4 linked regions of the Homo sapiens genome follow. The protein of the gene in region 4 purifies or fractionates together with the protein of the main gene of each other region. This does not show direct contact. Each region holds a gene or a part of one and is shown on either strand. Other genes may lie near its edges.

The links.
Region 1: the proteins of HMBOX1 (region 4) and AMOTL1 purify together in Homo sapiens (affinity purification with mass spectrometry, with the first as the bait; one large-scale study listed by BioGRID). This does not show direct contact.
Region 2: the proteins of HMBOX1 (region 4) and GRHL1 purify together in Homo sapiens (co-immunoprecipitation; one large-scale study listed by IntAct). This does not show direct contact.
Region 3: the proteins of HMBOX1 (region 4) and CDADC1 purify together in Homo sapiens (affinity purification with mass spectrometry, with the first as the bait; one large-scale study listed by BioGRID). This does not show direct contact.

The regions. Positions count from the first base shown.
Region 1 is NC_000011.10:94,863,623-94,869,408, forward strand, and holds part of AMOTL1 (angiomotin-like protein 1), read left to right. Parts: intron 1-1,112; coding exon 1,113-1,238; intron 1,239-2,319; coding exon 2,320-2,546; intron 2,547-5,575; coding exon 5,576-5,786. UniProt on the Homo sapiens protein: Inhibits the Wnt/beta-catenin signaling pathway, probably by recruiting CTNNB1 to recycling endosomes and hence preventing its translocation to the nucleus.
Region 2 is NC_000002.12:9,988,748-9,994,533, forward strand, and holds part of GRHL1 (grainyhead-like protein 1 homolog), read left to right. Parts: intron 1-1,948; coding exon 1,949-2,000; coding exon of another isoform or gene 2,001-2,036; intron 2,037-3,259; coding exon 3,260-3,399; exon of another isoform or gene 3,400-3,569; intron 3,570-4,227; exon of another isoform or gene 4,228-4,459; coding exon 4,460-4,497; exon of another isoform or gene 4,498-5,786. UniProt on the Homo sapiens protein: Transcription factor involved in epithelial development. Binds directly to the consensus DNA sequence 5'-AACCGGTT-3'.
Region 3 is NC_000013.11:49,284,799-49,290,584, forward strand, and holds part of CDADC1 (cytidine and dCMP deaminase domain-containing protein 1), read left to right. Parts: intron 1-1,423; coding exon 1,424-1,484; intron 1,485-5,786. UniProt on the Homo sapiens protein: Catalyzes the deamination of cytidine and deoxycytidine into uridine and deoxyuridine, respectively. May play an important role in testicular development and spermatogenesis.
Region 4 is NC_000008.11:28,895,904-28,901,689, reverse strand, and holds part of HMBOX1 (homeobox-containing protein 1), read right to left. Parts: intron 1-5,786. UniProt on the Homo sapiens protein: Binds directly to 5'-TTAGGG-3' repeats in telomeric DNA. Associates with the telomerase complex at sites of active telomere processing and positively regulates telomere elongation.

The sequences.
Region 1 (5,786 bases), on a different chromosome or scaffold from region 4:
ACATTGGAATATGAAGTTAAAAGATGTGAAATACTTGGCTACATCATGTCTTACTAATTAAATACTCATGTAGTCAGAGCCATTATTGTGCCTTTCATCTTGAGCTATATCACTTAGATGATGCAGTGATCTTATTTTTACTAATCATTGTTAGTTAGTAGTAATTAAATTGTCAAAACCAGTGGCAGGAATAGTTATCTGTGACTGGTTGTTTATAGTCAGACAGATGCTTGCAGTGAAACTGCTTCTTGATCTTCTCGTGTCTGCCCTTGCCCTCACTGCACCCACCTCACCTGAACTTGTCAAGGACAGTGTCTGCCTTCTTCTTTCTGTCCTGGACCCTGGCATGCCTATTACATTGTCCTGACCTGCATCCCAGGCAGGGCCCATAAAACAAGAAGTGAGACAGAATACAACATGAAGGAAGACTTCAGCTTGGAGCCTCACTCTCTGAGAGGACCAGTCTCAGTTTTAAGTATTTACTGAGCCCCCATTTTACTGTAAAATACTGAAGTAGGCATTCTATGCTGTATGGATGATAAACAGAAATAAAACCTAAACTCTGATTGGAAAAGTGAGGTATAGGACAAGCATGAAAAAGTACAAGCATGGAAACACCAACAAATACAATAATAATAATAATAATAATAATAATAGTGTCCATAAGTCAGTAGATTAAATCTCTAGGTGCCCATTTTACATATTCATAACATGCCATGTAGCTACATACATAATGTAGTCAGAAGGGGGAGGGGACTTGATTTTTGAATTTTATTTTGTTTTCCTTAGATGCTGCTTAATTCTATCTAGTTAAGGAAGAGAATTGGACAGAATTCAGGAGAGGAAAAGTGGGTGAAGGAGTTTGTGGAGTTTTAGCACGGCACCCTGTGATCACCTCTCCACAAGCATTTACACCTTTCTCTGTATGGGCATCAGATGAGATTGATAACTGAGCTGGGGAAATTGGGAGGGAAAGGCTTCATGAGCCAATGCGAGATGCAGAGCTGATCTCTGTTCCAGCATGAACACCAGCCTCTCCATTCTGTGTCTGTTTGCATTGAGACAAAGCAAGAAGGTTTCCTATGATCAAACGCATATCCTTGTGTTGCCAGGGACACCACGATCATCAACCACTCACGGAATGGCAGCTACGGAGAGAGCTCGCTGGAGGCCCACATCTGGCAAGAGGAGGAGGAGGTGGTGCAGGCCAACAGAAGGTGTCAGGACATGGAATACACGTAAGGGACGACTATGTGTGACGTGTGGGGCCCGCTGCATTCACACTCCAGGCCTTCCAGAACAGATTGCTTCTCTGTCCTGTTCTGAAAGGCTGTGAGCATGAGGTCTCCAAAAACTCTCCTCCCCCATGCTGTGCCATGGAGAGAAGGAAAAGGTTCCAACCTAAGCACGTGGTTCCACTCAGCAATGGATCTGGTGCCGGAGTTCTCTGGGGGAAATTGCGTGTCACCTGCCGGTTTTAAGATGCAGGCTGAGTCTAGTGACAGAAGAATTTAGATGTCTGTGTTATTTCTTGGTGTCTATCTCTATGACATTATGAGCTGAAAGGGGGAAACATTATATCCCAAAGATTCAGAGTTTTTGAGCCAGAATTTATATATTCCAGTCCAAAATAAAGAACATATTTAGCTAATGCACTCTTCTGATGGGCTACACAAAATTTCCAGCAGACTTTTTGACATAATAAAACTAGCCTGTCCCCCTTCACTACCTAAGGGCTTGTGGAACCCTGGGAGCCCTAGGCCTCTTATTTTGCAGATGTGAAAATAGGGCTGAGTAGTTGAGCCATTGATAGATAGGCTCAGTGAGTTACTATCAAAGTTGTGAAAATAACTCAGCATTCTTCCAGAAAAATCATCTTCTACCAGAGAACCTGTTCATCTTGGTTCTTTTTTCTTAGAAAATAGAGAAATTGACTTTAGCTGAAAGCTCACCCTGTTTGAGGCTTTAGAGTTTTTATGCTTCCCTATCCCCTACCTACCCCCGGCCCCCACCGCCAATGCTAGACCCTCTAAATATGGTCCCCAGCCGACTTCGGTCCAGGAATGTGGCCACGGTCATTCTAACTGTACCTCGCTGAAGTCCCAGTCTCCCAAGGTGCCAGAGAAGGTGTACTCTTTTGACATATGACAAAAGACCTGTCTTAACAATTTGGAGATTATCAACATTTGAAGACTCGTACTGTGCTTCATCCTGTATCCCTAAATTACAATTAAAGTCTTTGGGACAGCCTGAGATAAATGTTTCAAGTTTTTCTAGCCAAGTGGCTTTTTATGGAGACTGTTTTGTTTTGTTTTACAGTATTAAAAATCTCCATGCCAAAATCATAGAGAAAGATGCTATGATTAAGGTCCTGCAGCAGCGATCTCGTAAAGATGCCGGGAAGACAGACTCCTCCAGCCTACGTCCTGCCCGCTCCGTTCCATCCATAGCAGCAGCTACTGGGACACACTCTCGCCAGACCTCTCTTACCAGCAGCCAGCTGGCTGAGGAAAAGAAGGAAGAGAAGACCTGGAAGGGGAGCATAGGTGAGCCCCACACCTCTGTCAGACCATGATTGGAAAAGCAAGACCAGACAGCTTCTCTGCCACTCATGGGACACGGAAATGTCCCTGAATAGTTCCTGGTCTCAGTTTACTCATCTGTGAAGTGGGGAGGGAAATCAGTCATACTTCAGTTATAGATATGTGGAAGCATTGTGTAAATTCTAAAGACTGCACCACTGGAGTAGCTCTTAGCCATGGGTTGACTCAGATCAGAATTATCTATTATTGTTGTAAGTTGAGGTGACCCTTATAACACAAAAGGCTCTCATAGAAAAGCCTAGAGACATCACGCCTCTGAACTTGGCTCTGCTCTAGACCAGTTGTATGACGGCTCCACCTCTGCTTCCACGTCTGGAAAGGGAGGACAGTGTCTGCCTGCTTTACCCCATGGGGAGTGGGAGGGAATAATGGGATAATGGGGGGAGGAGAGTGTCTGCCTGCTTTACCCCATGGGGCGTGGGAGGGAAGAATGGGATAATGGTGGGAGGAGAGTGTCTGCCTGCTTTACCCCATGGGGCGTGGGAGGGAAGAATGGGATAATGGGGGGAGGACAGTGTCTGCCTGCTTTACCCCATGGGGCGTGGGAGGGAAGAATGGGATAATGGGGAGAGCACATTGGAAGAAGTGCTCTCTCGCATAAGGTAGGGGTGGTAAGTTTTTGCTGTATTGTTGTTGCATGGGCAGAATTCCCTAAGTGTGGTCTTAGCCAGGAGTAGGTTTCTTGGGGGCAGGCAGGCTTGTTGGCTGGCTGGGCTAGCCAAGCTGGAGGGGAAGCAGGCAGCGTGCTCAGACACAGGTCCTCCACATCCTTCCCCTGCACTCTGGCCTCTCCAGGGGTCTGGCCCTTCTTTGATGCATTTCCCCACATCAGATCGTGTTTTTGTTTCTCTGTGCAGCTGAGAGCCAGTGGTCCTCAGCATAAGACCCCAAAGGAGACTGGCTGCTCTGGGCCAGAGGGGATAAGAGCTTCCATATGAACCCGACAGAGTTGGGGGGATCAAAGGCTCCCAACCAGAATCTGTGTTTGAAGTCCCTCCACTGGTGGCTTCAGCAGCCCCTGCCCCCAAAGGAAATGCACTTCAAAGAAGACGTGTGTGGACAGCAGCTGAGATCATCAAAGACTGTCCCAAGGACATTTAGCTCCCACCCCAGCTAGAGAGCTGGGAGGCAGTGCTGAGCCAGGCCTGGTCAAGGAGTTTGAAAATTTGCTCAGCTCTGGTAGCAACCTCCCTGGGAGTCCCCTGTTTGTGACGTGCAGCCAGGCAGGCATCTCTGGTGTCTGTGCCCGTATGCCCCAGGACCTGGCATGTCTAAACCAGGCCTGGGAGCCGGAGGACTTGTTTGAAGGAAGAGCTGCTGTGTTCCCTGCACTGATATTCCTCCTCATTGTTGTCATTGGTGTCCACGTGTCACAAACACAGGGACTCTCCAAGGGGCTGAGGCAGGTTCATGGGTGACTGCACAGTTCCCCACATGTTGTCACCATTGCTTGCCTGATAGGCTCTGGAAGGAGGTGGAGGTGACAGCATATACCTTCCCAATTGCCCAGGGTATCCCAGGAGCTATGGCTGGCTAGTGACTTATTCAGCCTGTCACTCCCTACGAGGACATCCTGCAGACTCTGGAGTTTCCACAGGCTGGGCGATGAAGTGGAAAGAACATAGGTTGGACTCCAAGTCAGGCACAGTTGGGTTTGAGTCCCATTTCTGCTGCTTCTTAGCTGTGAGATGTTAGTTTTTGTGAGCTTCCATTTCCTTCTCCGTAAGACAGGATAAGGCCTGTCTCGCAGGAATGACATGCAGTATGAAGTGAGATGATGTGGGAAGCGCAGGTGAAGGCCTTTGCTGCTCAGCGTGGTCTGTGGACCAGTGGCACCAGCACCATCTGGGAGCTTCTTAGAAATACAGAATCCCAGGCCCTGCCTGCTGGATCAGGTCTTCCTTTTAACGGTATAGCCAAGTCATTGTTATGCACATTGCATTTTGAAAAGCACTGCTCTCGACAAACTGAACTGCCCTGAGTTCTAAATGGGCACCTTAAAACAGCTCTGGCGAGGATACTTTATGAATTGCTGGCTATCTAACCAGATAAGAGAACAAATACTTGATTGCGCTTACCGCCTTTTCTATAGGCTAGCATTCTAGGGTGCTGGCACTTTCCCGCGTGTGTGCTGTATTTAAAAATAAAAAGTTATCCTCCCACCCAGCTTTCCAGGAAGGCTCTGAGGAAAATGGACACCTCTGCACACCACGCCTCCCATTTCCATAGCCAGCATCCCCTCTTCCCCACCCCAGCCTCACTACTCTTGAGGAAGGGGGTAAGGAGAGGGCTAAGTGGCCTTTCCTAGGAGGCTGGCTGGCTTTCTGCTTCTGGGAGGCTACAGTTCCACCGCAGAAATGTGCAGGTAGCATGTTTATCTTTGAATCCAAGCCTGTGGGGGACCATCATCCATTACAAGGAGTGGGGTGGAATTGTGAACTATTCAGAAGAGCAGCAAGCCAATGGGAACATGTCTAGGACCGGGGAAGCCTTGTAGTTTTTCTTAAGCACACTGCCACGCTTCAGGCCAGCCCTTCTGGGCCACGTTGGTAACAGCAAGCATGGTCTCTGGAAAGCCTTGTGGGAACCTCCCTACCCCTCCTGCTGGCAATTAGGCACTTCTCTGTTCGTCCATACCACCCTGTGAATAATTTATTTGTATCCTACAGTTTATATATTAAGTTATAATCAGTTTACTTGACAACTACTTCTCCACTCCAAAAAAAAAAAACAAAAAAAACACACAAAAAAAACCTACAATTTTTTAGGAAGGGGACTAGGTCTTCCATTTTTTATTCTCTCAGTGTTTGTTATTTTATCAGCCTTGTAATAAGTGTTTATTAAATGCTTGGGGAATGAATCAATGAATGAATGAAGCAATCATCAATCAACAAGGAACAGATCTGCAAGACTAGATTTAAAAAAAAAAAAAGGAAAAAAAGAATGTTGAAAAATCTGTTCTCTGCCCTCAGGATTGCTGCTGGGGAAGGAGCACCATGAGCATGCCTCTGCCCCACTGCTGCCACCCCCACCCACCTCAGCACTGTCCTCCATAGCCTCCACTACGGCAGCCAGCAGTGCCCACGCCAAGACAGGCAGCAAGGACAGCAGCACACAGACTGACAAGAGTGCCGAGCTCTTCTGGCCCAGCATGGCCTCCCTTCCCAGCCGCGGCCGGCTGAG
Region 2 (5,786 bases), on a different chromosome or scaffold from region 4:
TTCTTTAGTTGCCTGCTGGTCAGGGCCTTCTCGTTCTTGTTTCTGCATTTCGTCTGGTTTTTGTTGTTGTTTCAGGGTGGAGGGTAAATCTGATCTGTGTTACTCCATGTTATGTAGAAACAGAAATACCTTATTCTTTATAGATACACAGATAAATAAGGAGGGACAGTCCTATTTTGTAATAGGACTGCACCCTCCACCTTTTGGAGGAGGGTGGTGTTTATCATCAGAATGAAGTTATGGTTAGACTTGTTAGAAGGGACAGAGAGACCCAGACCAACTTCATACAATAATGGCTAGGAGATTGGGGATATTTACCTGTTTTTCTGTGTCAGGGAGGGACTGTTGTGTCAATGTTACATAGCAATTTTTATAAGCAGGTTGTATATTTACTATGTTAGTATGCTACCACCTTCTAGAAAAGGCAGAAGGTGGTTTTATATTCTGTTTTTAAAATGTGGTCCTTATTATATAATAATGCTAATAAGATCAGTGGGATTTTTATTGCCTCTTTTTGCTCTCAGCAAATTTATTTAACAGAAAAATAAGCTACCAGTTCATCCTTAACTGGAGCACTATGTAAAGAAATCTGTACCATCCAGAAATTAATTCCAATAAGTCAAGCAAAATGATTAAATGTAATGTTTTTAAATATGCTTCATTGCCTGATTTTGGGCCGTGTTTGTTACTAATATGGTTCTTTTGAACTTTGTTGTTGTGGGTTCAGCTGCATGGTACTATCGGTCTTTGAGCAGTTGATATACAGAGTACACGAGTGTCTTTTTCTAGGACTCTGAGTACACTTTTTCTCTTTTTTCTTTGAGGGAGTCTCACTCTGTCACCCAGACTGGAGTACAGTGGTGCGATCCCAGCTCACCGCAATCTCTACCTCCCAGGTTCAACTGATTCTCCTGCCTCAGCCTCCCGAGTAGCTGGGATTACAGGCATGCATCACCACGCCCGGCTAAATTTTTTGTATTTTTAATGGAGACAGGGTTTCCCATGTTGGCCAGGCTGGTCGTGAACTCCTGGCCTCAAGGGATCCACCCACCTCGGCCTCCCAAAATGCTGGGATTACAAGCGTGAGCCACCGCGCCCAGCCCACTTGTTCTCTTTTAAGTGATGATGCATATTTCTAGTTCCATCTTCACTTTGTGAATTCTGCTTGGTTAGATCTGCCACATGGTTGATACCAGGCCCTTGGACTGAATCACAGCCTTCAGTGATAACCTTGGCCATATAGGAGAGTATACTCAAGAGTAGGGCCAACTTGGGTTTTTTCTTTCATTTCCTTTTCCTACTGGACAAAGGGAAAATACCCTTGTGTCTTTGCAGGCATGTGGTATACTCACAGATTTTCTCAGCTTTCATTTAACACGACCACATCCATTATAAGGAGAAATTTTGCTTTTTTTTTTTGAGACAGAGTTTCGCTTTGTCACCCAGGCTGGAGTGCAGTGGTGTGATCTCAGCTCACTGCAACCTCCACCTCTCAGGGGTTCAAGCAGTTCTCCTGCCTCAGCCTCCCAAGTAGCTGGGACTACAGGTGCCCGCTACCACGCCTGGCTAATTTTTGTATTTTTAGTAGAGGTGGGGTTTCACCATGTTGGCCAGGCTGGTCTCGAACTCCTGACCTCAAATGATCCACCCACCTCGGCCTCCCAAAGTGCTGGGATTACAGGCATGAGCTACCGCTTCCGGCCGGAATTTTGCTTTATTTGTTTTTCAAATAAATGTTGTTCCCTGTGATTTCATAGAATTAAAAATAATTTTAAGACTAATCTTTTTAGAAGAAACTACTATGATAAGCCTCATGAATATAGTAAGTAATGGGGTTCCTGTCCAGAGAAGGGAGAAAGGCTTCTTCTTCCATTGGTCAGGATAAGAGTTAAATATTTTAAAGAAGATTGGAAAACAGAATCATATCTTGTCTTCTCTTAACCTACAGGGAGCTGAGCGGAAAATCAGGGATGAAGAACGAAAGCAAAGCAAAAGAAAAGGCAAGTGTCCTGACCCCAGCTCCCAGGTGAATGCCTGTAAGTAGAAATGTTCCCGGCAAGCTTCAGACCTTTTCCATTGAGAATGGTGGCTGGAGTTTGCACGCAGAAGACAGTGGGTGTTCTTCCTGTTCTGCAGTGTGGCACTGCCTCTTCCTCAGATCAGCAGCAGATGCCAGCTCAGCGGGAGGGGTTTTCCTGGGGACTACAGGATAGATCCCTGGGTTTTCCCGACCTCAGCGTTTTTGGCTCTCAGTTCTAGTTCAGACTTCTGTTTCCAGTCTTGAAAAATGACAACACGTTCTGCATGAATCACTGTTAAAATTGGGACTTATCTAGATTTTTTAAAGTAATAATAATGGTCTTGAGAATTCAAGATGTCTTAACTCCAAGTAAGATCATATTTTGTATCTAAAGTATAGTATTTTAATATTTGCAGAATCTATAGGGCTTCTGTTTGGACATTTCACCAGGAAGGCTTTGTTTTCTTTTTTTTTTAATTGTGACCAGTATTCATATTCACAAAATCTTGTATCTAAAATGAAGAAAGTGCTGTTCTGTGCCTGTAGGGTTCCATCTGTAGTACATGGGCTTCTGGCAGCTCTTTTGAATGGTCTGTCTGGCTCAGCAGACATTTGCCCTGCAACACCTTAGTCAGGATTCTCCTACTGGTATCAAAGTACAAACTCCCAGTGACACTTCAGAGAGCAGCTGACTAACTAGGAGACCTCATTACTGAGTACTTCAGGGCCAGCCAGATCATTGGGGAAGATGGAGTCTCTAACTTACTAAATTAAAAATTGGATGGGCATGCTTACACTTCACCTCATTGTCGAGTTTCTTGATATGTTCTGAAGTCAATGGGTCCATGAGTGTTGGAATGTAAATTATTTAATGAGGACAGCTGAGGTGAAATTTCTTCCAAATTATGTTTACACAATTATACATTTTAGCCTTTCCAATGAAAACTAAATACGCTCTGCCTCTGTCGCAAATCTTCTGTGGATATGCGTCTGTGTGTGTTTGAAGATACCTTTTCCCTTTTGATTTGATAAGACATTCAGTTGATTTTAGTGGAAATACACACAACAAATTCCTTTACATAAACTGGGATTCTTAGGCAGGCAGCGTGCCCTGTTGTATCTTACAGAGTGCTACACTTGGAGTATCTTACTCAGAGGCGAGCACTCTGTGGCCTGCATCCAGTCTGTATGTAATCCTTTGACCTTGGCTTCCTCTTTTTTAATTTTTTTTTTTTTCAGTTTCTGATGTTAAAGTGCCACTGCTTCCCTCTCACAAGCGAATGGATATCACAGTTTTCAAACCCTTCATTGATCTCGATACTCAGCCTGTCCTCTTCATTCCTGACGTGCACTTTGCCAACTTGCAGCGGGGCACTCATGTAGGTAACCAGGATCCCAGGGGAGGTTACCAGGAAGGAAGGCATGGCAAAAGGAAATTCTTTGGCATTATTCATGGGAAACAGAAGCCAAAATTGAGTGAGGTTTGACCAGTTAGTCAGCTCTTTGGAATATTCTGCTGGGGTGACATGATGCCCGTGCAATAAAAATGGTAAGCATCGCTGATTTCAAGGTGCAGTGCAGCCTGTCAGCTTTATTCTGTTTGTATTCATTCATTCATTCGTTCGTTCTTCATACCTACATATCCTAGCTCATTTAAAAGATTCTAGAATAGTAGCATAATTTGGAGTTTGAGCCTGTCATCTTTTTAAACTTAACTTGGGGCAATACCTAGGTTAAGGAGCTCTTATAACATAAGAACATCCGAAGGCTTTTCTCACAGTTCCAGTTACTGAGCCGTCCTTGCCACGTGTAGTTACCAATGGCCATGTCTTGGCAACTAAAACTAAATTTTAAAAAATGGTCACGCCCTGTTTTGTGGCAAAGGCTTACAAGGGATAGAAACTTCAGTAGAATGAAGCATGGTTTTATGCTGAGTGCAAATAAATATCAAAAAGACAGTCTTTCATGCACTTTGTGGACAGATTTATAAGGACTAAAGATTCGTCAGAGTTCTTGGGGCCATGGCCAGTACATTTAGTTTCTAATGGGAAGCTGGAGGTGAGCAGGGGTTAGCACACTGTTTTTGTGAAGGGCTGGGCCGTAAAGGTTTTCAGCTTTTGGGGCCCCGTGGTCTCCACTGTGCTGCTCAGTGCTGCCGAACTAGTGCACACATGGCCATAAGCAGCATGTGAATGAATGAGCGTGGCTTTGTTTCAGTAAAGACTTTATTTACATGAACTGGCTTTAGACCAGATTTGGCCCAACCACTGAGTTAAAGGAGTTCAAGACATCTGTAAGAATCTGTTATTGAAAACTAAGGCTAAAGGATTTTATATTAGATTGGTGAAATTCAAAATTATTTCCATTTTAGGAATAATTCATTTATGGCCAAACATTTTGAGCATACATTTGAAAAGCAATCTATTCCTTTGGTCTTAGGTCCTTCCCATTGCCTCTGAAGAATTGGAGGGTGAAGGGTAAGATTTATGTTTTGTTTTGTTTTGTTTTAATAATGGAAATGATTTCAAACTTGTAGAAAAACTGCAAGTACAGTACAAAGAACTCATTTTTCCCTGAGCCATCAAGGATAAGTTGCCAGCCTGATGGCCCATCACTCCTGAATATCGTGGTATATATTTCCTACCAACAAGGACATCCTCCTGTGTCACAGTCAAGATTAGAATATTAACATTGCTTCATTAGCACCAATAATGTCCTTTATAGCAAAAAAGGATCCAGTTCAGGATCACACATTGTAGTTGTTTGTCATGTTTGTTGATCTTCTTCAGTCTAGAACTAAGCCACTCCTTAACTTTTCTGACCAAATATTTTTGAAGATTACAACCAGCTGTTTTGTAGACTCTTCTTAGTTTGCGTGTGTCTGCTGCTCTCTCATGGTTAGATTCCAGGCCTGGCAGGGATGTCATAGAGGCCAGGCTGGGTTCTCCGTGTGTCCTAGCAGATGGCGCTTGATGTCAGTTTATCTGTTACTAATGGTGTTCTTTGGTCACTTGATTAAGCTGGTATCTGCCAGCTTCTCCACTGCAAAGTGGCTCCTTTTATAGTAAGTGTTGTCTGGGGAGGTGCATTGTAGCTTTGTAAATATCTCATTCCCCATCAAACTTTCAGTTTACTCGTTCATTTATTGCTATCAGTATGAACTCATAGTTTCCTGTTTTATTCAATAAGCTGTGATTCATTAGTCATTTACTTTGATGCTCAGGTTGTCCCAGAATTGGGCTCTGCCTTCCTGTGCCGGGCAGCCCCCTACTCATGCTGCCTAGTGGAGGGGGGCTGACGCTACCCCTCTTTGGGCTATCAGAACCTTCTTGATGGCTCTGGGACTTTTTCAACAAGGCAAAGATTCTTTTTGTTTTTATTTCATTTTACTTTTAGAGACAGGGTCTTGCTCTGAGGCCCATGTAGGAGTGCAGGGGTGCAGTCACAGCTCACTGCAGCCTTGAGCTTCTGGGCTTAAGTGATCCTCCTGCCTCAGACTCCTGAGTAGGTGGGACTACAGGCACATGCCACCACACCCATCTAATTATTATTATTATTATTATTATTATTATTATTATTATTATTGTAGAGATCCTGGTCTCAGGCAATCCTCCCGCCTCAGCCTCCCTCTTTCTGTTATCTGCCCTCAGAAAGGTGCATCCTGATGGAGAGAGCCAAGATTTCCATGGGAAGTTCATTCCTCAGCATCCCTCTTCCCTCATCTTCCATCCATTCCCAGGGCTTAAACCGTCATACTGGGGACATT
Region 3 (5,786 bases), on a different chromosome or scaffold from region 4:
TGAGTGAACTGATGCTTATGGAAGAGGCTCCCGGGTAATCCATATTTGTGTCCTGAGATGGTGCCCTAGCAGGGCCTTTTGGTTAAGTCATTAGTGATTCTGATAGAGATTCTATCCAGCTGAGAAAAGAAGGGCTGTGCTATAAGATACCGATTACTCTCCATTTTTATTTTCTCCTGCCCCAATATTCTATGTAATATCTGTGAATCTTCAGGCTTCCCTATTTATTCCTGAATGGTTGAGATGAAATACAGTAATCAGAGGAGATATATGATATGATATAAAATGATATGATGCAGGTAATAGTTTATGATATAACAACATTAAAAGGCAAGGTAATCTTGGTCATATTTTCTTTTTCTTTTCTTTTTTTTTTCTTTTTTCTTTTTTTTTTTTGTGAGACAGAGTCTTGCTCTGTCTTCCAGGCTGGAGTGCAGTGGTGCAATCTCGGCTCACTGCAAGCTCCACCTCCCGGGTTCTCGCCATTCTCCTGCCTCAGCCTCTCGAGTAGCTGGGACTACAGGCACCGGCCACCACGCCCAGCTAATTTTTTGTATTTTTAGTAGAGACGGGGTTTCACCTTGTTAGCCAGGATGGTCTCTATCTGACCTCGTGATCCACCCACCTCAGCCTCCCAAAGTGCTGGGATTACAGGCGTGAGCCACTGTGCATGGCCTATCTTGGTCATATTTTCATTCTTTAATACCTAGGCCTTTTCTAGCTATTATAAGATTCTCTAGGACCTGGAGATAGAATACAATGCGATGTTAATTCCATAGTACTGGGCATGGGTTCTAATTCTATTGCCTCCTGTAGTTAGGGTGTAACCTGAGACAAGTCACTCCAATCCTCTGGTCTTCCACTTACTTCCAATTAAAATGAATGTAAAGAATCTTCAACTTCTCTAAGAGTATTGATTCGGATCCCAGAAGTTATATCATTCAGGATCACTCAGTGTGGCGTTATTAGGGCTTTGTTAATTTGAACATGCTAACTTCTTTTTCTTCTATTTTTTTAATTTTTTTTTTTTTTCAAGATGGAGGCTTGCTCTGTCACCCAGGCTGAAGTGCAGTGGCACCATCTCAGCTCACTGCAACCTCCACCTCCCAGGTTCAAGCAATTCTCTTACCTCAGCCTCCCAAGTAGCTAGGACTACAGGCGCGTGCCACCACGCCCAGCTAATTTTTGTATTTTTATTAAAGACGGAGTTTCACCATGTTGGCCAGGTTGGTCTCAAACTCCTTAACTCAGGTAATCCACCTACCTTGGCCTCCCAAAGTGCTGGGATTACAGGTGTGACCCACTATGCCCAGCCATTTTTCTTCCATTTTTAAGAAGTTGTTTTGATATTTAAAATCAATGTGCTGGAATGCTATGTATTAAATCCTCTTTAAACAAGTAAAATGTTTGTGCACTCTTACAGTGGCAGCTGAATCCATCAGGAGCTTATGGTCTTGAACAAAATGAGCCTGAAAGGAGAGAAAGTAAGTATTTATGTATTGAGGTGAACTTTGTTGCTGAGGAGAAAGGATATACAGTGAATTTTAATGATCAGGTGATGAAAATTGTGTTAATAGATGGAGCATATTATTTTTGAAGGTTAGATTTTTGCCATTCAATTTGTTCATAAATATTTGTGGGTCTACCATATGCTAGGTGCTATGGAAAGTGCCGATTAATAATTACTCCTATAGAATCTACAGGTTAATACAAATAATTATGCACAAATTGACTTTATAAATTAAATGCATATGAAACAGTAAACAGCAATGCTCTTCTATAACAAAACAAAAGCTTATTGGGGAGTGAGAAAGGAAAAATATGTATAATTAGTACAGATGGATTGGGACCAAATGATGAGGATATATACATTCTTCTAGAGTAAACCCACATTTGCCCAGATTGGAAATGTTCTGGTAACTTGAATAATCTGATTAACTAAGAATCATCACAGCTACCATAATGAATTACTAGTCTTTAAAGCTTTATTATTCGTATACTACTACAGATATTTTGAATGTAATATAATCTTTGAGAAGTCTTACAATTCTTTAGGCACATAATTTTAGATATGAGTGCTATATAATATTATTCTAAAATAGTAACTATAGGCCAGGTGTGGTCACTCACGCCTATAATCCCAGCACTTTGGGAGGCCAAGGCAGGGGGATCACTTGAAATCAGGAGTTCGAGATCAGCTTGGCCAACATGGTGAAACCTCGTCTCCACTAAAAATACAAAAAATAGCCAGGTATCATGGCACATGCCTGTAATCCCAGCTACTTGGGAGTTTGAGGCAGGAGAATCACTTGAATCCAGGAGGTGGAGTTTGCAGTGAGCCGAGATAGCGCCACTGCACTCCAGCCTGGGCGACAGGGCAAAACTCTGTCTCTAAAAATAAAAATAAAACAGTAACTATATTATCGAATTATTTGGATTTGAAGTAAATGGAAGTTTTCTGTAAGTTTTCTTGATAATAACAATTTTTTAACCTTGAAAAATCAAGAAGTATAAAGGTCTTAGAATAATTTTTCTGTGAATATATTGATTTTCAGTGTTCTGAATTAGCTTTATTTGATTCAAATAGAAAATGTATTGTTTGCAATTTGGAAAAAAGTACATATCCACTGCATCTTTCTTTTTAAAAATTTATTAGCAAAAAAGGCTGTATCTATCTATCTATCTATCTATCTATCTATCTATCTATCTATCGGTCTGTCTCTCTGTCTATCTATACATCTGATTAAATAATGTACACTCAATGACAGTGTTTGAAGGGGCCAATGAATAATTTCCTATGTTAGGGAAAGGATACAAAAAGCACGAATCATAAAAAGGTTAATTTATCTATGCTACAATGAAGAATATCTGTTCATTAAAATATATTACTAGGCCAGGTGCAGTGGCTCACACCTGTAATCCCAGTGCTTTGGAAGGCTGAGGTGGGTGAATTGCTTGAGCCCAGGAGTTTGAAACCAGGCTAGGCAACATGGCAAAACCCTCTCTCTACAAAAAATACAAAAATTAGCCAATTGTGGTGGCACATGCCTGTGGTCCCAGCTACTCAGGAGGCTGAGGTGGAAGGATCTCTTAAGCATGAAGAGGTTGAGGCTGCAGTGATCCATGCTTGTACCACTCTACTCCAACCTTGGCAACAGAGTGAGACCCTGCCTTAAAAAAAAAAAAAAAAAAGATATCACTACAAGAGTGCAAAGGCAAGCCATGGAATATGAGAAGATACTTGCCACTTATAATCAACAAAGGGCTTGTATCTAGGATTTATTATTCCTAGATTACTAAGGAAAAGGAAGACATGCTGTGGTTAAAGCCCCAAGATTGGAAGGAGGGGACAAAAGGAAGGCTTCTGGTTTGCTGGCAATGTTTTATTTATTGACCCAGATGATGGTTACATATGTTTGCTTTGTGACAGTTCAACTGAACAGTTAAGTTTATGTTTATGCATTTTTGAACAAGTGTTTGATCTCAGTAAGCAATACCCCATTTCCTTTTTAATTATATGATAGTTTTACTGATATGTAATTCATCTATCATAAATTTGCTTCTTTAGTAGATTCACGAAGTTGTACAGGCATCACTACAACATAATTTCAGAACATTTTCATTATCTGAGAAAGAAGTCTCATGCCTATTTGCAGTCACTCCCCATTCTTCACTCCCCCTAGCCCTAGGCAACCACTCTTTCAGTTTTTATGGATTAGTCTATTCTGGCCATTTCATATAAATGGAATCATACAGTATGTAATTCCTTTCCAATTTTTGATTCAGTTGAGAAATAGACACCAGAATCAACAGATGAAAGTTACAACACCAGCTTTGTTGTTAGACTGGGGCTTGACTTTTGGGTAAATCAGTCTGTCTAACTCAGAGGGGGACTTGCTGCTGGATACTCTCTCAGTGCCAGTAGCAGGGACAAACAGAGAAGGAAGGCAGGCAGTGTGACTGACAACTCTCAAGTGCCCTTCCACTCCATGCAAATGGAACCCAGGTAACCCATAACAAGCATTCTTTTTAAAGAGTCATGGAGCTTTCAAGAAAATAAGAGAAATATTCTCCTAAGAACAAAATAGAGATAAGAAGGCATTTTGCTAGAATCTGAGGAGCAATAGTAAGCGAACACAATAGCCAGAGCTATCCTGGGGACAAATGTCCATATAAGCTGGGATCTGAGATCAGGTCTGGGTCTGCTGCAAGGTGAGTGAACTGAACTTAGTTCACCCAATCAACACATGAAAAGATGATTAAACTTATTAGTAGTCAGAGAAATGCAAATTAACATTGCACGGAAGTAGCTTTTTTTTTGCTTTTTTTTTTTTTTTTTTTTTTTTTTATGACGGAGTCTCACTCTGTCGCCCAGTCTGGAGTGCAGTGGCGTGATCCTGGCTCACTGCAACCTCCACCTCCCAGGTTCAAGAGATTCTCCTGCCTTAGCCTCCCAAGTATCTGGGATTACAGGCATGCACCACCATGCCCAGCTAATTTTGTATTTTTAGTAGAGACGAGGTTTCACCACGTTGGCTAGGCTAGTCTCAAACTCTGGACCTCAGGTGATCTGCCCGCCTTGGCCTCCGAAAGTGCTGGGATTACCGGCATGAGCCACCACGCCTGGCCTGAAATAGCATTTTTTATAAGCGTATGCCCTAGAGAAACTCTTGCATATTGTATAAGAGTCAGAGAGACAAAGAATTTGTTGCTATATTGTTTTTAAAAGCAAAAACTGGAAATAACACAAATGTTTGTTTTGGGTGGTTAGATAAAAATATTATGGTGTATTCCCACAATGGACTACCATATAGCAGTGAAAACAAATGAACTAGAGCTACATTCTTCAACATGGATGAATCTTAGAAATATAAATGTTGAATTTAACAAAGCAAACTACAGAATTATGATACCATTTCTGTATAAAGTTCAAAAAGACATACCATATATTGGTTAAATGTGGTAGGCCAGGCATGGTGCTCACACCTATAATCCCAGCATATTGGGAGACTGAAGCGGGCCAATTGCTTGAGCCCAGGAGTTCAAGACCAGCCTGGGCATCACAGCAAAACTCCATCTCTACAAAAGATACAAAAAATTAGTTTGGCATGGTGGCCTGTGCCTGTAGTCCCAGCTACCGCAGAGGCTGACATAGGAGGATCACCTGAGCCCAGGAGGTTGAGGATGCAGTGAGCTGAGATCACACCACTGCACTCCAGCCTGGGTAACAGACTGAGACAGACCCTGTCTCAAAAAATATATAAATAAATAAATAAAATATACTTTAATATATAGTATATACAGTAAAGTTATTGTTAAGAAGCAATCGATTGATAAACACAAAAATCAAGATAGGAGTTGCCTCTGAGTGGGGTGAAAGGGGATGGGACGAGAGAGGGAGCGCACGGGAATTGATAATGTTCTAGTTGTTGGATTCGGCAGTATGTTTTGTTTTTTTTCCATCTCCCCCCAACACACATAATGTAGTTTTATTCAGTTTTAAACAAACTGTAACTCTTTTGGGGCAGTAAGTTCATGAGTGTTCATTTTATTGTTAGGCTTTAGAACTCCCATCTGTATTATGTATGTATTATTATATATTACATAATACATTATATATAGAGAGAGAGAATGTTTCAAATATTACATGATATGATGAGAACAAGAAAGAGAGAGGGGTGGCTTTCCAGATCTACCTCTGGAAGGCAAGTCTGAGCCCTGGCCCAGGTGTCCTTAGGACAAGGAAACAGCAGGGCAGAACATACAGGCTCAGGGCAGGAAATCCC
Region 4 (5,786 bases):
AACTAAGGTATAGTAACCTCTTAAATGACTTGATGAAAAGTTTGATAAAAATTATTCTAAGAGTGCTGTGCACCATGGAATAGAGTAGGGAAGTGGCAGGAAGGCCAGTTTTACTGCTGCAATCATCTCAACAAGAAGTAATGAGGATGGCAACTATAGACAATAAAGGAAAAGAATAATCTAAGAGATGTTATGGGGTGAAAGAATCAGCAGATCACTGACAAATTAGGTGAGAGGAGGAGGGAGAAAAGTACAAAAAGAAAAGTACTAAAGGGAGATTTAAAGCCTTCAAATCTAGGAACTTCAAGACCAGAGGTAATTTTAACAAGAGAGAAAAGAATGATGGAAGAAACACTTGTATAGAAAAAATTTTAAGGGGAAATATTACATCAAATGCAGCTAAGAGCTAAAAAAGGAAAACTCAGAAGAAAATAAATACACAAAGAAAAAATAAATTAGCCAGAAAGGGATTATTTGCAACAAATAGAGAATTCTAAAGATTAAGGAGGGGAGTATTACCTAGGAAAAAGAACAGGACAACTAATAATAAGATAAGGTGTAACAACCACTACTCTAAGCACTTTGCAAATGTTGAATCATATACTCACAAGAATCCTATTATGTATATGAATAAATAGTATTATTTATCTATGCCCAGTTTACAGATGAGACACATAGAGGTTTACACAAAATTACAGGGTTAAGTAGTGGAGATCAGATTTGCACCTAGACAATATGGCTCCAAAGTTCATGTTCACAACCAGCTCAATATTCTAAGAGTAATTAAGACTCCAAAAAGAATGACAGACCTTAAAAGGTGAGAAATTAATTCATGAGTGCAAAGGTTCAAGAGATGGCTGATATTCCAAAGTATATAAGGTTAAAAAACAAACAAAAAAAACTCGCTTACCAGATCCAGAAAATTAGAATAAAGGAGAACTTAATGACAAAAGGTGGGAATAAAAAAAGACTGTCTTCTTAAGAGTTCATATACAAAAATACAGAGTTTAAGAAAATGAGCTGATGCCATAACCATAAAAACTAGATGTTTAGGGCATAATACTGTTAAGTACAACATCTAGAAAAATAATCATATTTACGCAAAATATAGCCCATGTCACGATCTACTGACATAAGCAATCAGAGAGGATGGACACAGTGTTTAATATGAGGCAGGCAAATATCAGGAAAGAAACACTCCCAATTATAAACAGATATTTGAGACTTCCACAGAACAAAGCATATAATAGGTTCTAAGTAGACATTATGCTGTCTATGCATTTTCCAAGCATTCTGAGGACTATACCAATTAGAATTACCTGATATACTTATGAAGGATATATATTCCTGGGCCCATCTCAGATTTTAGGAATCTGGGGGTAGAACTCAGGAAACAAAATATATATATATATATATATTTTTTTTTTTTTTTTTTGAGACGGAATCTTGCTCTGTAGCCCAGGCTGGAGTGCAGTGGCGCAATCTCAGCTCACTGCAACCTCTGCCTCCCAGTTCCCAGTTCAAGCAATTCTCCTGCCTTAGCCTCCCGAGTAGCTGGGATTACAGGCGCGCCATGATGCCCAGCTAATGTTTTAGTATTTTTAATAGAAACAGGGTTTCACCATGTTGGCCAGGCTGGTCTTGAACTCCTGATCTCATGATCCGCCCACCTCAGCCTCCCAAAGTGCTGGGATTACAGGTGTGAGCCACTGCGCCCAGCCAGAAACTAAAATTTTAATACTTTTTCCAGGCAATTCTTCAACACAAAAGTTGAGATCACTGTTTCCTTCTGTTGTAGCCTAAGTGCTTAGAACTCTGTGACTCCCCAACTATTTATCTCCTGTGGCTTTGTAATCTGACTCCAATCTTCTAGGTTCCTTAGTTGCCTATCCTTGACTTGTACTTATTTCTAAAAATCTTGGCCCTGGTTTGGTAATATAATAAAGACTTGGATATGGAAATTTTAGCTCTGAAGTCCATATAAACTCCAATACTGACATAGGAATAAAAAGCTCCAGTTCCTTTCCCTGAAATCATGGAGCTTTTGTTAAATATCACCTATGGTGTTGACTGGACATTGGATTGACCCAGTATGTCAATTCTTTTGTTGCCAGATCTGCAGAGAACAAGATGCTCACTACTACAGACTCAACTATTTGAATTCCTGCTTATTGTCTCTAAAGAAAGAAGGCACAAATTTTCTTGTCAGGGATGAATGACATTTGCTAAGAGAACAGTTGTCACTATATAGATAGAGGGTGCCTATGAGAATGTTCCAGTTCCTAGAGTAGTGATGAAATGAGTTCTCCTAAGATGTCTCTAGATCTTAATGATGGGACAAAAGAATGTCTACTTGATATGAATAAGAGCTTCTTTATTCAATAAGGGATAGTCTTTGATAGCAGCAATGAGGATCCTGATACAATGGCTTCTAGATACTTTCATGCTTAGTAGGTTAGTGATCCAAACTGTAGAGATAGTACGTTCATGTATCCAGGGCTACCTCTCATTCTCCTTCCTTAATCCTAGCTAGTTCTTATAGTCCTACTTTGTCATCTTTCTGGTTTGCCTGAGGTGACTAGAATAAAAAGCAAATCTTAAATTATAGGAGTCTTTTGCTATTTCCAGCAAACTGATCCTTGCAGAAAAGGATTAAATCCAACCTATCTTTGTATCCCACAAAGTACCTCATCACGCACTGCTAGACTTGACATGTTTAACTGAGTGCCTTGTTCAACACCAACAAGAGAACCCTCCTCATAAAAAGCATCTAAAAGCTTAAGCCTCATATAAAAGGTGCTTTCCACGCTACCTCCCACCAAGGTCACGGGATAAGGATAGACATTTAAGTCATGGTGGTCATGCAATGCATTCAGATTTCTCTCTTGCCAACTGAACTAAAAGAAACACACTGTCACCATCAACAGGTAAACTCTAGTTGAAAGAACAGTTCAAGTCAACACCATGGCAAATCAAATCCACTTACCAGTCAGAGAAGCAGAGACTATGAAAAACCAGGGCAATACAAACAGAACTGGAAGGGAGAAGTGAGAAAGGGAGATGAAGCAGACATGGAAGGAGATGCTGAGACAAGAAACCATTTATCACCAGAACGAGAGCTTGAGAGACTAGCTTCTCAGATTCCTAACGTTTCTCCCATTCACACAAGGTCTAGTCACTCTTCTTCAACCCAAAACAGCTGAATCCCTACAACGCCTGTCCTTGAAGCCAAATGATCCCTAATTCAAGCATTATTTTTTAGTACGTACACCAAGACAAATAGAAAGCTAGAAACATAAATCCAAGGAGGAAAAAATAATTCTACCAGGAAAAAACTGAAATCACAGGTAGCCAAAAAGCTTTGTAAATATGAATCTTATTTATCAGGAAGTACCATCAATATTTGTCATATTCCTGCTAATGAAACAAATTAAACTTTGTCTTTTTTTAATAGAAATTATCACAGTATTGACAAATGAAAAATTGTCTCAAACCCAGAGAAGACAAAAATCAGGTGATCTACCTTTATTTGTTAATACATTTGAAAATATTTTGTTAGCCTGTTTAAAGCAGACTTCCGTTGTTGTCTGTAATAATCGATAGTATATTGGATTAACAGCCTCATCTTTTAAGACAGGCTTTATAATCATATGGCTGATTAAGGGGCAGCAAAGTATAACCAACCCTGTAACTATCCTTTAACTTGTACCTAACAAAAATAGTAACCATAACCTCCCCTTTTATTCTGTAAAGATCCTTTTTCTGAAAATATCTTTGAACTAACTTCCTTTAAAGCTAGTTCCCTTGCAACAAGTACAAAATAAAACTATGACATATGCTGACAATCAATTAATCTGACAAGTTTGCATTAACACTGTCAAAACCAAACTAATGTCAAAATAGCTGTAATTTTGGTTATCTAACACAGATTCTAACATATCCTCTCTAGCAACAAACATACCATGTAAGCCTTGAATTTATTTAAAATTTAAATCTTTTTTTGTTTGTTTGTTTGAGATAGAGTCTCGCTCTGTTGCCCAATCTGGTGTGCAGTGGCGCCACCTTGGCTCACTGCAACCTCCGCCTCCCAGGTTCAAGTGATTCTCCTGCCTCAGCCTCCTGAGTAGCTGGGAGTACAGGTGTGTGCCACCACGCCCGGCTATATTTTTGTATTTTTAGTAGAGGCAAAGTTTCACCATGTTGGTCAGGCTGGTCTTGAACTCCTGACCTCATGATCCATCTGCCTTGGCCTCCCAAAGTGCCGGGATTACCGGCATGAGCCACCACGCCCAGCCTCATTTAAATCTTACACATTTTATTTGTGGACAATTTCAATGTTATCGTTAACTTTTACCAGAAAATTTTAATGGGTCCTAATATTATAATTCCTCATTTAAAAAAAAAAAACTAGCCGACCAGTGGCTTACGCCTGTAATCCCAGCACTTTGGGAGGCCAAGGCGGGTGGATCACCTGAGGGGGGATTCGAGACCAGCATGACCAACATGGAGAAACCCCGTCTCTATTAAAACTACAAAATTAGCCGGGCATGGTGGCGCATGCCCATAATCCCAGCTACTCAGGAAGGCTGAGGCAGGAGAATCACTTGAACCTGGGTGGCAGAAGTTGCGGTGAGATGACATCGCGCCATTGTACTCCAGCCTGGGTAACAAGAGCGAAACTCCATCTCAAAAAAAAGAAAAAAAAAAAAAACCTAGCCAATATTCAGATTCTCATAACAAAAAAAAAAATTGGTATGTTTGCAATGTCAGGTTCATCTAAAAAATAAACTTTTAAAAGAAAGTTTAAGTGGAATTTTTCATAAAAACTTTCAGGATGTGCCAATGCAACACTTAATGACAGAGATACACTCTGAGAAACGCACCATTAGGCAATTTCATTGTTGAGCGAACACCATAGAGTGTACTTACACAAGCCTAGGTGGTATAGCCTATTGCTCCTAGGCTACAAACCTGTACAGCATGTTACTGTATTAAACATTGTAGGCAACTGTAACGCACTGGAAAGTATCTGTGTTTCTAAACCTTGGAAAAAGTACAGTTAAAATATGATATAATCTTATGGGACCACTGTCATATATTCAGTCCGTTTTTGACTGAAACATCATTATGTACTACATGACTGTATTACATAAGGCAAAGAGTGAAATTACTGATCCAATAATTGGTTATCTTTCTCCTTAGCTATATTGACAAAACAACAGAACTTATGAAGAGGAGGAGAATCATTCAATCTTTGCAGTAAGAGTTCTGTACCTTGATTTTGGTGGTGATTATGCAATCTACACACCTGTGATAAAATGGCATAGAACTATACACACACATTGTACTGATGTCAATTTCCTGGTTTTAATATTGTATTAAAGTTATGTAGGATGTAACCAATAGGGGAAACTGGGGAAAAGTTACAGTGCCCTCTCTATTTTTGCAGCTTCCTGTAAACTATAATATGCCAAAAGCATCCTAAGGACTTGCCAGCACTTCAAGGGCTCACAATAATCCTATGAAGTAGGTACTATTTTTATCCCCAGTCTATTGATGGGGAAGCTGAGGTACAGACATTTTAAATGATTTGCCCAAGGTCACATAGCTAGTAACTGGCAAAAACCAGGATTTGGACACAGGTGGTATGACTCTCAATTTTTGATTTATGTCAAAGTCTGAGGAGCCACTAAAGGATTACAGGCAAAGTATGGTTGACAATCAAATTCACATTTTATTTTGGCAAGATAACTCCTACTAGGAGCTTAGAATGACTAATGAAAAAA